Homo sapiens: one gene and its partner. The protein of the gene in region 1 purifies or fractionates together with the protein of each later gene. This does not show direct contact. Each region holds a gene or a part of one and is shown on either strand. Other genes may lie near its edges.

Region 1 (3,204 bases):
TTTCTTAGAAATACGGGCGACAAATAGAGTTCGGGCGCATCCCCTCTAGGTCCAGTGAAATCATCCGCTCATGTGAGTGGTAGAGAGGTGGGATGCATTCTAAAGTTTCCATCTTGGCTTCTGTTTTCGTCATCTCCCCTTGCTTCCCCTACCCCCACTTGCTACAGCCTCCACATTTTTGTCCGTGCTGTGCTCTCTGCTTGGAAGGCTTTCTTTCCCATCTTCAGCTGCTCCTCATCCCTAAGGGTGAAGCATTTCATTCAGCACCTCATCTATGAGGCTTTCTTTGGGCAGCATGAATCCCTCCCTCAGATTTCTGAACGCTGAATACTTGTAAAAAACACTATGATAGAATTTGTAAGTATTGCTGTTACTTATTAGCCCTCCAATCAGACTGAGTTCCATCATAGCAGGATTGGGTCATAATCAACTTCGTATTTCCAGAAACAAACTCCATGAGAGGGTGAAGGGTATGTACTCAAAAAAAATGCAGACAGAACACAGATCTAACATTTCTTTTCTCCACAGTACAGTTTGACACTAGAAAACATTATAAAATAAACATAAATATGGCTTCTACAATAAAGCAGTTTGTAGAATATATCGAATATTATAGATTTAAGAGTTCTGGTAGGATATAAGCGACATATGACTAAAATAGAAAAATAGTTACAATACTATCACATAGTATTGTAATTTTTCATTGTTCTGAAACTGTTCATAACTATTTAGGTTGAGTGTAATCATAATGGCAATCATTTGCTTTAAAAATCAGAAATAATGTAAAATATATAAAGTATATAAAGAAAGTTTGATCCTAGCTCATGGGTGCCCAACTGGAGTTATTTTGGAAGGCTGTAAGACCACGAATTATGAGAAGATAGAAGGTACAGATTAAATAATAAATCTATTTGTTATTAGAAATTGGCTTATAGGAAATCTATCATAATAAAGTCTAGTTTTAGATTTCAGACCACACAAGAACAAGAGAAAAAAACGAGGGTCAAGTAAATAGTTCTTGCTCATAGGTCTTGCTGCCTCCAAACCAGGAATTACATTAAATTGTGCTAATACAAATGAACAAACAACCAAAAAACAGAAAAATATGCTACTTTCAAGTTTCAAGTAAACAATTGGTTTTTCAAGATTTAAAAAGATGAGTTTCAACACATTAAACAAAGACACTGAAGCTGTTTTTTCCTAGCACGTGTACGATGTACTAATATCCTATGTGCATTATTAGAACTAAAAAAAATTTAGTTCAAAAAAACTTATCTTTTTAAAGCATCTTTGCTCTACTTCATAGGTTTCTGCAAATTATATTTTCCCCAAACATGAACACAACATTTGATCTATTCATTTATTTTACTTTCTAAGGAATTGATAGAAATATAAATGTACATATACCTAAAAAGTGGCTATCCTACATATGACAGCCCAGAATTTACTAACTCCATAGGTTTTCTGGATATTTCAAGCACACATTAAAACAATTACAGAGAGGACATACATTTATGATTTATGCAAATTAAGGCACATCAATTACAATCTATTTTTTTAAGTTAGTCAGTTTAAAAATCTTCACTTACAAAAATTCAAAATATGTCCAAGCTCAACTTTTTAGTAGGAATGTTAGTTTGTTGGGTTTGGCCATTTTCTTTTTTCACCTTAAAGGTCAAACATGAAACAATGAGGAATGTAGGTCTTTGTAAAACACATAAATACCTGTGATGTTTTGAATCATTTGGCCCTTAAAAATATTGCTTAACAAGTTAAACCCAGCTTAATTGTAGGTAAATGCAAGTATACCCAAGGCTGGACTATTTTAGTCTGCTTTTGGCTGCAGATTGTACTTCTGTGGCTGGAAAAAATGTTCTTCAATAGCACTGACCAGTTCATTCAGTTCCTTCTTCAGCTGCTCAGGATCACTGGAAAATAAGGGGGAAAAAAATCCAGGTCAAGGGATTATTCCAAAGCACAGTTTAAATGCTCCCCCCATTGACCAAGTGACAATGAAAATATAACCTTAAGAAGAGGACTAAATAGGAAAAAAAAGAGAACTCCAGAGACTTAAGCATGGAACACATCTATTGACTTAGACAAAACACCCCATGAGACAATATGCATTATTTTTCCCAAAGATTTTTCCAATGTCTGAACTATAAACAAAGTTATCCTTTGCTCTTCTCATAAGACTTTGTAAGAAACACAATTTTTGGCCTAGCATCCCTAAAAGATCTGTAATATTTGTACCTAAGGGTGTAGAGAAAGCTTTCATGTCAGTTGCCATTAAATCCTGCTAAACTTTTATAAACAACATCTCTGTTAACTCCTCAGTCTCCCAGAATACAGACATTTGTGATGATGTCTGCCCTCAAACTACTGGCACCTAAGCTCCAGCCTTGTCTATAAAGCCTTCCTAGAATGAACAGCAATAGGGAGCCTCCGGGTGGGTTTGAGGAGTCAAACACCAAGAAATCAGATCCCTGTGGTCATATCATAATGAATCTATTTCTTGAACCAAAGATTCACAACTGAAGTATAAACAAGAATCTGGGGAGACAAATCCCTTTAAGAAAATCAAGTTTTCAGGGCTGTGGGCAACACTCATTTATATACAAACATTTGAAAGGTTAAGTAACAGATACAGCTGACTTGCAGTTAAAGAGGTTTCCAGCATCTTAAGTAGCCTAGTGTGAGTACTGTAAGTACTTAACACCAAAAAGCTAAATTTAAAAATCTAAATCCTTTGTACTTTCCATTACTTCATACTCTTCATACCATCTTTAATATATGCAGAGTTTATTTTAATGGAAATCCCTATAATTAGTTAAAATCATTTCAACATTGTAATAGCTAAACAGTACTGTAATAGCTAAAGCAATCCATTTCATTGTAGACATTAATTCTGGCTCTATACTTACTAGCTCTGTGCCCTTGGGCAAGTGGCTTGGCCTCTCTAAGGCCCAGATTCCTCATTTGTAAAATTGGGATAAAGACTTTATCTTCTCAAGAGAGTTTCTGTACAGATTGCGATAAATTATATAAAGCAATTAGCACTGAACCTGGCCCAAAGACCTCAATAAATGTAGCTATCATTATAATTATTTTTATCCCTACTGGCAACATATAAAGTAATTATGCTTTTTAAGTACATATGAATTATATCAGTTTTCTTTTCCTTCTCCATAAATGTGCTTTGAA
Region 2 (3,377 bases), on another chromosome or scaffold:
CTCCCGGGTTCAAGCAATTCTCCTGCCTCAGCCTCCCGAGTAGTGGGACTACAGATGCCAGCCACCACACCTGGCTAATTTTTGTATTTTTAGTAGAGATGGAGTTTTATCATATTGGCCAGGCTGGTCTCGAACTCCTGATCTTGTGATCTGCCCACCTCGGCCTCCCAAAGTGCTGGGATTACAGGCATGAGCCACCGTGCTTGGCTAGCCTAAGCTTTTTATCTAGTTGTACCTTTTTTCTTCTGGCTCTGAAATTCTGTGAATTTTGAATTCTCTGTACTTTTCAAGTATGGGAGCAGCTCTGAAATTTAGGGAAGTATCGCCCCCCTAAGGACAAAAGAGAGACTACAGCATATTTAGCAGTCGTCTCCCCAACTCAGAAAGTGGGTTTTCCGAAGGAGCAGTTCACCTTTTCTGGAGCAGGGAACCCAGAGGGAAGAGACTCACCCATGCTGAACACCTACTGTGTGCCTGGTGTTGTGCTGAGTGCCTACTGTATGCCTGGTGCTGTGCTGAGCACTTTGTACAAGCCCCCTAATCCTTATAAAAGCAACCCGATTAGGTGGCAGCCATTATCCCCATTTTGCAGATGAGGAAGCTGAAGCTCAGAGAGGCTAACTGACTTGCTCAAGGCTCACAGCTAGTTGATGGCCCAGACTGGCATTTGCATCTAGGCTTGTCTGTCCCGAAAGCTGATGTCCTTCCTGCTGTCGCTCAAAATACACCTCCCTTTTCCTTTCCCTTCCAACACCTCAAATAGCACAACCCCCTGTCCAGCACAGACCCAGGGAAGACCCCTCCCAGAACCCTGGCCTGCTGGCCTGGCTCCTCAGCCCCCGCTAACGCTGTGCCTACCTCCCTTCTTGCCTGTCTCAAGGCAGCACTGTACGCAGCACCCTATAAGTCTGACTTCCTGAAAGCGCTCTCCAAGGGGCAGAATGTTACGGAGGAGGAGTGCCTGGAGAAGATCCGCCTCTTCCTAGTCAACTACACGGCGACCATCGATGTCATCTACGAGATGTACACCCAGATGAACGCTGAGCTTAACTACAAGGTGTAGGCATGCCCACTGCTGGACACGTCCCCGACTCGTGGCCACATGGAGAAACAGGCAAACCAGAATCACTGTGAATCAAGTCGGTGAACTGCCCCTGGCCTGTGTCCCCCAGAGCAGCCCAGGGTCCTGCCAGAGTCTGCAGGGGACAGCCCTCGTTTTTTAAGTCTTTTTTTTTTTTTTTTTTGGTCTATTCTAAAGGACCAGTAAATAATGATCTTACTTCCAAATCTCCTTGGAATTTCACGACAGCACAGACTGACTTTATACCTTCATTTCAGCGTGGTAAAAACCGATTAACACTTCTAATGAGTCAAGTCCTAGGGTTTTTTGGTTTTGTTTTGTTGCCAACGAGGAACACAGCTCTGGGGGAATGGTGTCATCCACCTCGCTTTAAAAATAAGCACATGATGGCTGGGCACCGTGGCTCACGCCTGTAATCCCAGCACTTTGGGAGGCTGAGGCGGGTGGATCACCTGAGGTCGGGAGTTTGAGACCAGCCTGGCCAACATGGTGAAACCCCATCGCTACTAAAAATATAAAAAATTAGCTGGGCATGGTGGCGCACGCCTGTAGTTCCAGCTACTCAGGAGGCTGAGGCAGGAGAATCGCTTGAACCCGGGAGGTGGAGGTTGCAGTGAGCTGAGATCGCACCATTGCACTCCAGCCTGGGCAACAAGAGCGAAACTCTGTCTCAAAAAAAAAAAAAAGAGGTGGGTGGATTACTTGAGGTCAGGGTTTGAGATCAGCCTGACCAACATGGTGAAACCCTATCTCTACTAAAAATATAGAATTAGCCAGGCATGGTAGCGCACGCCTGTAATCCCATCTTCTTGGGAGGCTGAGGCAGGAGAATCGCTAGAAACTGGGAGGTGGAGGTTACAGTAGCCGAGATCGCGCCACTGCATTCCAGCCTGGGCAACAAAAGCGAAACTCTGTCTCAAAAAAGAAAAAAAAGAAAAAAAAGCACGTGACCTTATGAGGCTCTCGCTGTATTGTTATTTTAAGGACTATAAAGAGTTTGATTTAAAATTATGCAGGGCCCCTATGTGGGATTTTTTAAAAAGCAAACTGGTGTGTATTCTCATGTGGTTTGCACAGCCCAGCCTCACAGCACTATTGTAAACCCTGCTCTTTCTGTCTCGCTAGACAGATTTTTTTGTTTGTTTTCTTTTTTCTGGTTGTTTTTTGTTGTTGTTGTTGTTGTTTTACAGCTGAAACCAACCAGCAAGCCCTTGATGACCAAGAGGCGTTTCTTTCAAAGCTATAGGGCACAAACAATTGACCATAGATGACTCCGTTTGCATTCTTCTGCAGAATTATTTCCTTCAGGGACAGATTTTCCAACCTAAGAAACTACCTACCGTGTGTATTCTCTTGACGGGGAGAGATGAACCCTTCAGCTGCTAAGATCCAAGAAAACGCCTCACTGCCTTAACCTTAACTGTTCTTCCTGGCGCTAAAAAGAGCTGTATTTTTTAAAGTGCTGGGGCAAACAAAGCAACCCCAAAAGAGTTGATGTGTGTTTTAAAAGAAAAAACCCAATGAGGAACAATTGGAGATTTTTATGCAGAAACTAAATAATCCTTAATAAATAAATCTCTATTTTGGAATCACATCTGTGCACTGTATTGGTTCTTGATTTTTTTTTCTTTCCTGCATCAGAAATTACAACTGGGGACCCTTACAAATCCTACCAAGAATGTATTTTCTGGCGTCCATGGTTTTAAAATTTTATTTATCTATTATTTTTAAATGTTTTTGTAGAGATTGGGGTCTTGCTATGTTGCCCAGGCTGGTCTCAATCTCCTGGCCTCAAGCAATCCTCTTGCCTCAGCCTCCCAAAGGGTTGGGATTACAGGCATGAGCCACTGCACCAGGCCTGGCCTCCGTGGTCTTAAAAAACAGAACTGGTTGCTGCATGGAGAAACGGGAATTTCACATAAGAATCTTGGGTTTCGGCAGGGTGCAGTGGCTCACTTCTGTAATCCCAGCATTTTGGGAGGCCGAGGTGGGTGGATCACTTGATGTCAGGAGTTCGAGACCAGCCTGGCCAACATGGTAAAACCCCATCTCTACTAAAAATACAAAAATTAGCCAGGTGTGGTGGCGGGTGCCTGTAAACCCAGCTACTTCAGAGGCTGAGGCAGGAGAATTGCTTGGAACCAGGAGGCAGAGCTTGCAGTGAGCCAAGATCGCACCATTGCACTCCAGCCTGGCTGATAAGAGCGAGACTCCATCTCAAAAAAAAAAAAAAAAAAAAAAAAAAAAAAAAAAAATCTTGGGTTTCTGTAGCCATAAAAAAGAATGAGTTCATGTC

Evidence for each region.
Region 2: the proteins of PGM2 (region 1) and GLTP fractionate together in Homo sapiens (co-fractionation; one large-scale study listed by BioGRID). This does not show direct contact.

The regions. Positions count from the first base shown.
Region 1 is NC_000004.12:37,860,234-37,863,437, reverse strand, and holds the end of PGM2 (phosphopentomutase), read right to left. Parts: intron 1,929-3,204; coding exon 1,826-1,928; 3' UTR 501-1,825; downstream 1-500. UniProt on the Homo sapiens protein: Catalyzes the conversion of the nucleoside breakdown products ribose-1-phosphate and deoxyribose-1-phosphate to the corresponding 5-phosphopentoses.
Region 2 is NC_000012.12:109,850,241-109,853,617, reverse strand, and holds the end of GLTP (glycolipid transfer protein), read left to right. Parts: intron 1-880; coding exon 881-1,063; 3' UTR 1,064-2,673; downstream 2,674-3,377. UniProt on the Homo sapiens protein: Accelerates the intermembrane transfer of various glycolipids. Catalyzes the transfer of various glycosphingolipids between membranes but does not catalyze the transfer of phospholipids. May be involved in the intracellular translocation of glucosylceramides.